Linked DNA regions of Homo sapiens. The gene in region 1 interacts genetically with each later gene. Each region holds a gene or a part of one and is shown on either strand. Other genes may lie near its edges.

The links.
Region 2: of FUS (region 1) and UPF2, extra expression of one rescues a mutant of the other (dosage rescue), as found in Homo sapiens cells (one study listed by BioGRID).
Region 3: of FUS (region 1) and UPF1, extra expression of one rescues a mutant of the other (dosage rescue), as found in Homo sapiens cells (one study listed by BioGRID).

Annotation. Positions count from the first base shown.
Region 1 is NC_000016.10:31,186,543-31,190,269, forward strand, and holds part of FUS (RNA-binding protein FUS), read left to right. Parts: intron 1-259; coding exon 260-294; intron 295-1,782; coding exon 1,783-1,815; intron 1,816-2,580; coding exon 2,581-2,684; intron 2,685-3,122; coding exon 3,123-3,252; intron 3,253-3,497; coding exon 3,498-3,599; intron 3,600-3,727. UniProt on the Homo sapiens protein: DNA/RNA-binding protein that plays a role in various cellular processes such as transcription regulation, RNA splicing, RNA transport, DNA repair and damage response. Binds to ssRNA containing the consensus sequence 5'-AGGUAA-3'.
Region 2 is NC_000010.11:12,025,810-12,029,309, reverse strand, and holds part of UPF2 (regulator of nonsense transcripts 2), read left to right. Parts: coding exon 1-565; intron 566-3,500. UniProt on the Homo sapiens protein: Involved in nonsense-mediated decay (NMD) of mRNAs containing premature stop codons by associating with the nuclear exon junction complex (EJC).
Region 3 is NC_000019.10:18,834,907-18,838,633, reverse strand, and holds part of UPF1 (regulator of nonsense transcripts 1), read right to left. Parts: intron 1-3,727. UniProt on the Homo sapiens protein: RNA-dependent helicase required for nonsense-mediated decay (NMD) of aberrant mRNAs containing premature stop codons and modulates the expression level of normal mRNAs.

The DNA.
Region 1 (3,727 bases):
TTTTTTTTCCAGAGGAAATAGATAACGTAACCTTTTAAAGCAAAATCTTTATAAACTGTGTCTGAGAAATTGCACACGTGTGTGTGACATGCTCAAAGGTCAGACAAGGGGTGGTCAGGAAGGGATGTATTTTAGTAGCCACTTGTATCTTTTTCCAAAAACACCTACCCATGTTTGGGGAATGTTAAACAAAATCAAAAAACAACCTTTTGTAGCCGTTGGAAGCTTCATGTCCTTTCTTCTAACTTGTCTTCTCCAGCGGAAGTGACCGTGGTGGCTTCAATAAATTTGGTGGTAAGTGAACAGAGTTTCCAAAATTCCCAACTCCCAGCAATGCTTTGTCTGATTGTTCATTTGCAGATGTCTTAGCGTGTTAATTTAAATGTCAAAGGTTTTGAGGTGTCCAGAACCACCTCCAGAAAGGGGTAGGGTAGAATGCCACCTGTTGCCTGGTGTGTGCTAACCTGGAGCAGGTAGGGGTAAGACTCAATAGTCATCTTTTACCAAATGGGTTTGCCCCAGGTTAATAAGAGGGGTCTAGTAGGCCTTGGACTGGGCCGTTGCCACACCTGGCACTTAGTGACCATCATCATGAGAAACTGGAGAGTGCGTGCTGGAACACGTGGTGCCATCTTGGCTTTAGGATCCTTTTGATCGTTGTGTCCAAGGCTTGTGTGTGTGTGAGTGTGTGGGAGACAACTCCGAATGTTTAATTCTGGAAGAGGGATGTAACATTGCCCTGAGGATGGTGAAGTTGGTATACATTTATAAAGTACGGAATGGTGTCAATGAATGCAATTCTATGTATATGGACTTAACTGAGATGGGCAAATAGAAACTAGCTCTGGGAAGGAACATGTGCACTACTTCAAGAAAGATTGGAAGCATGTGTGGCTCATGGGAAATAACCAGGTCTTAAACAGCACAAACTGAATTCGTGGACCAGGAAGGTCTTAAACAGCACAAACTGAATTCATGGAAAAATGACAAATTTGAGAAGTCTCCCAGTAAGCTGGAACTTTTCTGGTTTGGTTAACAAAAGGTTTCTTGATTTGTTTCAAGATTTAAAGCCAAAGGTGTGGGTTCATGACTTAGGTGTCATTGCGTGTGGGTACAATATTTATATATGGCGAATTCAGATAAACATTGGTCAAAGATGGTCTCTGGAAAAACAAAATAGAGGCTGCATTACGGAAATAAGATTTCTGGTCTGTTCCCTGGGACATGCTTAAAAAATACAATAGCTATTATGTATGGTTTTTATTTTCATGTGGTTTCGGGGAAACAACACGGTTTTAAGGATGGTTTCTAAAGATGAAATTAAAAATTGTTCCACAAGGGTTAAGTGTCTGGTGGTAAAGTTGGGAGAAACTGGATGGATGCACATCGCATGGCTGGTGGCGAGCCCATCTCTCTTCTCTCGGGTGAGAGAACCGGGCCAAGCTGAGTTGGTTTGTTCACTTTAATGGGTCTCCGTTTCCCCTGCCACCTGTGCTGAGGACATTTCCCAGCCTGAGCTGGGGGAGGCAGCATTTGCTGAAGTGTGGAGTTGTCTCTGTGGAGACTCAAGTTACAGATCTTAAGGGGCCTGCCTAGAATTTTCTCCTCTGGGCAGGCGACCCAGGAAAGGGTTTGGAGTGAGGCTGTGAGCACTTACTTGATATTTTACAAGTTTGGATTTGGTGTTAATTTTTTTCCTTGTCCGTTTTTTCCTGTTGACTAACGGCTCATCTTTTCCTTGTTTTTGTTTTTTTTTTGTTCTTTTTTTCCATGTCACTAAAGGCCCTCGGGACCAAGGATCACGTCATGACTCCGGTGAGTTCACACGTGGTGGCATGAAAAGAGTGGCTAAAGTGGTATCAAGACTGCCTGGATGTTCTTTGAAACTATTATAAAAAGGAAACTGAAAAAAATGGGGATAGAGAAGGAAGGGAGTTAGGTGTGTCCTTAGTTAGCAGTGAGAAGTATTTGTTACGAAGTATTTCTCAGAAATACCTGGCTTGTGGGTTCCACCCCCAGTGATTTAGGTCTGAGAGGACCCTGAAAATCTACCTTTCTAACAAGTCCCCAGTGATGCTGATGCGTCTGGACCACACTCAGATGGTTTACAGCAGTGGTTCTTTCAAAATGTGGATCATGTCCAAGTTGGTGAACAAAACTAGTGAAAGACCTGACCACATGAAGTAAAGCATTGAACTCCTGTTTAGGTTGTATTGATGTTTGTGTACTAGATTTGAATGTAAAATGGGTTTCTTATTTAATTCGGGGACCTTCAACTGAAAGTTGATAAATACTGATGGACTTTTCTGTGTGGTCTTGTTGGGCATTTCACTCCTGAGCCCTGGTTTCCATACTGTATACTGGGTGTTAACATGTTTCAAAGGATAATTGTCAAACTGAATCTGAAATTTATCAGCATGGCTGGCATATAGGGACTCAAAAGGGATGTGGATTTCTTTTTAGTTGTCTTCCATAAACCAAATGATACCAGTTGCTTGATGGATACTAGGTGCTTTAGGTTTTTTCCTGTGTTTTTTATTTTACCTTTTCACATTTGCATTTTCTCTGTTCAACAAGCAGAACAGGATAATTCAGACAACAACACCATCTTTGTGCAAGGCCTGGGTGAGAATGTTACAATTGAGTCTGTGGCTGATTACTTCAAGCAGATTGGTATTATTAAGGTACTTGTGGAGAGGAGTGGGAGCTTTCTGTCAGTGTTGTAGGCTTGTGGATTTCACACATTAGTAAAAGCAAGTCTTTAATGGTTGCCAGCAGTAAAAACAAGTCTTAGTGGTTGTTGCCAGCTTAATTTGTTGAGGAAAGAGCCTTAGTTACTGTTTTCTAAAAGAGAAGTTCTATCTTAACACAAAAAGTATAACTTATCAGAGTACCCTAAACTCTTGAGATTTGTACTCTATAGTAACTTTTAGTTTTATCTTTCAATATTGGAGTGAGAGACAGTTTTCTTTAATGGAGGTTTACATGTGAGGTAGGAAGAAGTAACTGGGAAGAGGGGAGCTGAAGTTTGGGAATTATAAACCTCATGTTCTAGAGGAAGAAGATGGAAAGGGAGTACTGTAGCCTTTAAAATTGATGTTACCTCATTTTGCTTTCTTCAGACAAACAAGAAAACGGGACAGCCCATGATTAATTTGTACACAGACAGGGAAACTGGCAAGCTGAAGGGAGAGGCAACGGTCTCTTTTGATGACCCACCTTCAGCTAAAGCAGCTATTGACTGGTTTGATGGTATGTATGAGAAGGCTGGCAGAGGTGGGGCTGGGGATATAGGGCAGCAAGCCTTAGGAAACAAGCCATAGTTTGAGGGTTCTTTTGAGTCTTCCAACACTTACTTTAGCTGCGGTTTCAGGTAGTCTCATTTTTGCTTATGTGTCAGCAGATTATAAACCATTTGAGAAAGGCACGCTTCTCTTGTATTTTCGGATTAATGTGTCTTGCATTTAAAGTCTGTTGATGATTTTTTGTTTCTCTAGGTAAAGAATTCTCCGGAAATCCTATCAAGGTCTCATTTGCTACTCGCCGGGCAGACTTTAATCGGGGTGGTGGCAATGGTCGTGGAGGCCGAGGGCGAGGAGGTGAGGAGCTACCTGCTAGTGGTGCAGAGGGGTAATGGGGAGAGTGCAGAAGATGGTAAAGGCTTGCATGGAATGGGTTAGATTTACCAAACTTGGAGAGGGAGCAGACCCATACTTGGTCTATCTGC
Region 2 (3,500 bases), on another chromosome or scaffold:
ATGGCCTAAATTTAAGCAAATACATTGCAGAAGCTGTAGCTTCCATCGTGGAAGCAAAACTAAAAATCTCTGATGTGAACTGTGCTGTGCACCTCTGCTCTCTCTTTCACCAGCGTTATGCTGACTTTGCCCCATCACTTCTTCAGGTCTGGAAAAAACATTTTGAAGCAAGGAAAGAGGAGAAAACACCTAACATCACCAAGTTAAGAACTGATTTGCGTTTTATTGCAGAATTGACAATAGTTGGGATTTTCACTGACAAGGAAGGTCTTTCCTTAATCTATGAACAGCTAAAAAATATTATTAATGCTGATCGGGAGTCCCACACTCATGTCTCTGTAGTGATTAGTTTCTGTCGACATTGTGGAGATGATATTGCTGGACTTGTACCAAGGAAAGTAAAGAGTGCTGCAGAGAAGTTTAATTTGAGTTTTCCTCCTAGTGAGATAATTAGTCCAGAGAAACAACAGCCCTTCCAGAATCTTTTAAAAGAGTACTTTACGTCTTTGACCAAACACCTGAAAAGGGACCACAGGGAGCTCCAGAATACTGAGAGACAAAACAGGTGATTTTCAAATGTTTCTCAGAGTTGAGAATTTATTTTGGAGCTCATACTTAAAAATGTTTAAAGTCTTCATGCCACTGAAAGAACTTATGGAAAAGGGCTCCTTACAGGTGATTTCTTAACATTCCAGGAAAATTTCAAAGTAGAACAGTCTGAGTACTCATGTTTTAATGTGAGTCTACGATAGATTTTGTTTCTGATTTTAAAAAAATCTGCCAAGTAGATGGTGATTTTTGCTTTGTGGATGTGTATTCTTCCTGTGATTTTAAATACTCCTTAATAATCAAGGGGTAAAATTTCCTTTTCTGTCACTTAAACTTACCTGCTAATATTTTTCTGTGTGCTTTAACGTTCTCTCTATAACAGGTTTGCTTTCATTGTTTTGTATTTTAAGTTCTTTATGTCACTGTTGCTCTTCTTAAGAAAATGAGTCATTAATTACCAGTGGTATTTCAGATTAGAGTTTTGGGAAATAATGCACAAAATTAGCTGTGAAAAAATTTCTTAAATGCAACTACAAAACTCATTTGTAGGAGTCTTCTTCCTGGGGGCATTCATTTAAAATTCTAAAGGAGGAATGTACTGTGCCTGTGGTAATTGGTGAAAAGACCTGACTTTGGGGCCAATTTTGGTTGTTAAAAGGTATGGTAGACTACTGTGTAGTATTTGTACCTGAGGAGCAACAAGAAGCTAGAAGTTGATGGAGTTGCTAGGCATTAGGTCAATTTCTATGGAGGATGGATTTGGAGGGGGGCTGAGGGAGTGTAGCAAAGAGGTAATAGCCATAGCACGTGGCTGAGTATTAAACTATTTTAATATTTCTACAACTATTTATATTGCATGGTTGAGAATCTGAAATTACTGTTGATCAGAAATTTGTATAGGAGGAGATCCTTTTCTAGTTTCATAAGTCTGTGGTAGGGGAGGAGTGGTTTAAGTAGTTACCACTAGAAGATGATTGACCAGAAGATTGAACAGGAGTAGTGTATGCCAGTAGTACAGTTAGGGCAGGGTCAAGGTAGAGACTGTGGTTAAATCTTTGTGGCTGAAGGTCACTCAGAGGTGAGAATTTAAGACGGCAAAGGTGTTATCAATAGTTCTTTTAGGAAAAAGGAAAAGGCTTATCCTTGTTTTGTGTTTTGATTTGCGAGGACTGGTTTAAACTTTGAAGAGGCAACCTGAGAGTGTACTTGTACCATCAGTAATGGACTAAAAAGGATTATGGTGGTGCTTTATTCATACTTCTCACTTACTTAGGGCTTAATTATGATTTCCATATGCTTTGTCAATTTCATAGTCCTTTGCTCGTACATCCTACCTAATACATCATAACTGATTTGTGAGTATGCTAATAGTATGCTAATGATTGATTAGTTCTTGGCTACTTTGAGGGTGTATGTGTGTGTATTTGCTTTTGATTGGACTCAGAATCTTGGAGAGTGGAGAGATTCTACGATGTTTTAATCCAATCCATTCACCTTTCCAAAGTAGGAATACATTTTTTAGATTATCTAACAGATAAAATTATTTTTCCTCTGAATACTTCCCAAAGGAGCTCAGTTCTCTCGGTGCCATTGCACTGTTGGAAACACTATGGGCTAGGAATTCTTTGTTACATCAGGTGGAAATTTAACTTCCCACAAAATGATTCCCTTTGATTTGGTTCTTTTTTCTGGTATGGATGGAATACAGGTACTTGAAGTAGGAAATCTATGAACTTGTAACCTGTTCACAATTTAATGAAACACAGAAAGTGAGAGTGAGCATTTAGAAATTATTATAGGAATTTTCAGGCTGGAAATGGTGGCTCACACCTGTAATCCCAGCACTTTGGGAGGCCAAGGTGGGTGGATCATCTGAGGTCAGGAGTTTGAGACCAGCCTGGCCAACATGGTGAAACCCCGTCTCTACTAAAAATGCAAAAATTAGCCGGGCATGGTGGCAGGCCCCGGTAATCCCAGCTACTTGTGGGGGACTGAGGCAGGAGAATCACTTGACCCTGGGAGGTGGAGGTTGCAGTGAGCCGAGATTGTGCCATTGCACTCCAGCCTGGAGGACAAGAGCGAGACTTCGTCCTAAAAAAAAAAAAAAAAAAAAAGTTTATAGGAATTTTCAGTGGTCATGGTATTCTTACTATATTTTTACAGAAGTGTCCAGTGGTTGGGGAAGGAAAGGTGGCCCTTTACCACAGATGGTTTGAGGAATACCAGTAGAGGACATATGTGTCCACTTTTATTCCCATGACAGTATCTCAGATATTCAGACTGCCGTGATGTTTCCCTTTTCTCGTCTCCATGTTAAATACCTCCAGTTCTTTCAGTTTGCTCCATGATTTCCAGACACTTCACTACTCTTAGGATACTTGTTTTGGATGCATTCTTTTCTATCTGTGACCTAAAATTGCCTTAGTTTTTATAGCTACCTTGTTGTTCTTTTGGTTTTTGTTAAACTTATTTGCACTGAAGCTTTATTTCTCATATGAACTGCTGACAAGCCACTTCTTCTTCACCTTAAACTAGTGAAATACAATTTTTAAAGCCTAAATGTGTACTTGCATATCTCTGTTAAACTTTATTTAGATGCTTTTTGTATATTATTTTAGCTTTATGAAAGCTTTGGATATTGATTACATGTGTATTATTAATAGTACTGGCAGGGTGCGGTGGCTCACGCCTGTAATGTCAGCACTTTGGGAGGCTGAGGCAGAAGGATCGCTTGAGCCCAGGAGTTTGAGACTAGCCTGGGCAACATGCTGAAACCCCATTGCTACAAAAAATATAAAAATTAGCTGGGTGTGGTGGCATGCGCTTGTAGTCTCAGCTACTTGGGGGCTGAGGTGGGAGGATCAGTTGAGCCTGGAAAGTCGAGACTGCAGTAAGCCATGATCGCACCACTGCACTCTAGCCTGGGCGACAGAGAGAGACCCTGTCTCGAA
Region 3 (3,727 bases), on another chromosome or scaffold:
TCTTGTTGCCCAGGCTGGAGTGCAATGGCACAATCTCAGCTCACCGCAACCTCCACCTCCCGGGTTCAAGCGATTCTCCTGCCTCAGCCTCCCAAGTAACTGGGATTACAGGCATGTGCCACTATACCCAGCTAATTTTGTATTTTTAGTAGAGACAGGATTTCTCCATGTTGGTCAAGCTGGTCTGGAACTCCTGACCTCCGGTGATTCACCTGCCTCTGCCTCTCAAAGTGCTGAGATTACAGGCGTGAGCCACCAAGCCCGGCCTGGATTTTCTTCTTTTTATTAAGACAAGGTCTCACTCTGTCACCCAGGCTGGAGTGCAGTGGTGCGATCATGGACATTTTGCCCAGGCTGGTCTCAAACTCCTGAGCTCAAATGATCTGCCTGCCTCAGCCTCCCAAAGTACTGGGATTACAGGCATGGGCCATCGTGCCCAGCTACATGTGCAGATTTTAAACTCACCACTTTTCGGAACCCAAGACTGTATGGAACTCACCCCGCCTTGGTCATAATCTCAGGGCTCAGCAGAAGATGGTGTGTTCACCTGGACAGTCAAGGATAGGTCAGGACAATGGCTTTGAAGACAAAGTAGCAACTTTCTATCCTGAGTATTTTACCACTTCAAAAGGAAAAGTGAGCCCAGGTTTACACACTCAGAGAAGTGGAGGCAATACAGAGAAGTCTGGCAGGAGGAGAGTGAGGGCTGGACGACAGGTCGGCTAGGAGCTTTAGCTAGTTGTCCCTTACGATCCAGAAAGACAGCATGTTTTTCCTAGGGAAACAACTCATGCACTCAGAGTAAAATCCCAGTACGAGATGACTATTCAGCTGTGACTCCCACAGGCTACCAGGAGTGGAGACGGAACAGGCAGTGCAGACCTGACCTGAGGATGAAGGAACAAAGTGGGACCAGTACCAAGCAGCATCTATCTACAAGGTCACCCAGAGCACCTGCACAAAAACATGCGTGTTGCTGCCTAAAAGGTCTGTACCTACCCACAGACCTCATACTTTCAGGTGAGCTAAGAAAAGCAACTCAAACCAATAGGCACACATTTTTCCCACTGGATGTACACACTGCTTTGTTTACCCATTCATCTGCTGATGGCCACTGGGGCTGCTTCCGGTTTGGGGTTCTCATGAAGAGATGCTGTCAGCATTTGGCGCAGCCCTGCGTACACACACCTTCATCTCTGCTAGGTCACAGGTAGGTGTATGGCATGAGAGTTCCAGGCAGCACTTTTGCCAGGCTCAATGGCTCACTCTGTAATTCCAACACTTGGGAGGCCTGAGGTGAGAGGATCTCTTGAGCCCAGGAGTTCAAGACCAGCCTGGGTAACATGGCAAAACCCCATCTCTACAAAAAAAGAAAAATCAGCCAGACGTGGTGGCACACACCTGTAGTCCCAGCTACTTGGGAGGCTGAGGTGGAAGGATCGCTTGAGCCCAGGAGGTCGAGGCTGCAGTGACCCATGATAACGCCACTGCACTACAGCCTGGGTGACAGAATGAGACTTTGCCTTAAAACAAAAACAAAAAACCCAAGTAGCACTTTCAGCCTTTTAAAAAAAGTATGGCAGGCTGGGCGCAGTGGCTCACGGCTGTAATCCCAGCACTTTAGGAGGTAGAGGAGGGCGGAACACGAGGTCAGGAGATCAAGACCATCCTGACTAACATGGTGAAACCCTGCCTCTATAAAAATACAAAAAATTAGCCGGGCATGGTAGCACACACCTGTAGTCCCAGCTACTCGAGAGGCTAGGGCAGGAGAATCGCTTGAACCCAGGAGGTGGAGGTTGCAGTGAGCCAAGATTGTGCCACTGCACTCCAGCCTAGGCAACAGAGCGAGACTCCGTCTCCAAAAAAAAAAAAAAAAAAAAATGGGTGGATAGTGGTATCTCCCTGACTTTTCTTTCCAGTTTCATTGAGGCATAACTGACATACCATAAGCTGCAAATGTTTAGTGTGCCATTTTAGAAACTGACATACATCAATGTACTTAAACACCCATAAAACTATCACTACAATCACGATAATAAAAACGTCCATTACCCCCAAGTTTCCTGTGCCCTTTGTCACCTGCCTCCCCTTTCCCACCTTTCTGTCCAGCCACCACTGGTCTGCTTTCTATTGCTGCAGGCTAGCTGGCAATTTCTAGAATTTTTTTATGAATTAAATCATATGATGAATGACACATACAAAAAAGTAATTATTATGAGACACATCCATGTTGTTGCAGGTATCAATAGTTTGTTCCTTCTTAATACTGAGCAGTATTTCCAACTCTTAAGAGTTTCACTCTAGTTCCCGTTTGGAGGATCCAGGGCAGAAGCTACAGTCAAGAGGAAATATTCCAACCAGGCAGACCAAAAGGCTTGTAACACCAGCTATTATGCAAAGGACTTCTGAAATTACCTTCACTGTCCTGGGAGCAGGAGAAGTGGCAGCAGAGAAGGGCCCAGGAAAAGGTCAGATGCTCGAAAACTGTCCCTGTATCTTAAGGACACTTGGCAATACTGTGTCAGCGCTTTTCATCCCAGGATCTCAAGGGCTTTGATAAATATCAGTTTCATTTCATAAACAAGAAAAGGAGTGTTATCTGAACCAGCTCTGAGTGCAGGGAGTCACCCCTGCTGCCACTTTCCCATCCCGGTGGGGACACACTGTCTTTCAACACACATTAAGGGAAAACCAACTGCGCAAAACCAGTTCAGGTAGGGTTGGTATGGAAAGTGGCTACACACTGGAAAACAGTCTTGCAGTTACTGAAACCATTAAACCCAAGGTTACTACGCGGCCCAGCAGGTCTATAAACACATCCACGCAGAAACCTGTACACTCATGGCCACAGCAGTGCTATTCACAAAAGCCAAGAGGTGGAAACAACCCAAATGTCCATCAACAGATGACGAGATAAACAAAACATGGTCCATCCATCTGGACCATTCCACCCATGGAATATTACTCAGCCTTAAAAAGGAATGAAATGCTGGCCAGGTGCGGTGGCTCATGCTTGTAATCCCAGCACTTTGGGAGGCCGAGGCAAGTGGACCACATGGTCAGGAAATCAAGACCATCTGGCCAACATGGTGAAACCCCGTCTCTACTAAAAATACAAAAATTAGCCGGGGCATGGTGGTGTGCACCTGTAATCCCAGCTACTGGGGAGGCTGAGGCAGGAGAATCGCTTGAACCTGGGAGGCACAGGTTGCAGTGAGCCAAGATCACGCCACTGCACCCCAGCCTGGGCAACAGAGCGAGACTCTGTCTCAAAAAAAAAAAAGGAATGAAATGATGACACATACCACAGCGTGGATGAACCTCGATCAGGTTCATTTTCCTGAATGCTCGGCCAGGGAACAGCTACGAAGCTCACCTTGTAGCTACTTCTCACACATCACGCAGAGTGAAAGGAGCCAGACACAAAACACCATATATGATATGATTCCGTTGATGTGAAATGCCCAGAACAGGCACATCTTGAGACAGAAAGCAGGTGAGTGGTTGCCAGGGGCTGTGGAGGTAGGACGGATGGGCTAAGGGGTGCAGGGTTTATCTCTGGGGTGACAAAAATGTTCTAAAGTTTACTGTGGTAATGGCTGCACAACTCTGAATATACTAAATAAAAGCCGCCGAACTGTACACTTTATATGGGTAAATTGTATGTTGTGGCAAGTGAATTCTATTTCAATAAAGCCGCTAAGCAAAAGTGACTGCAGGGCAC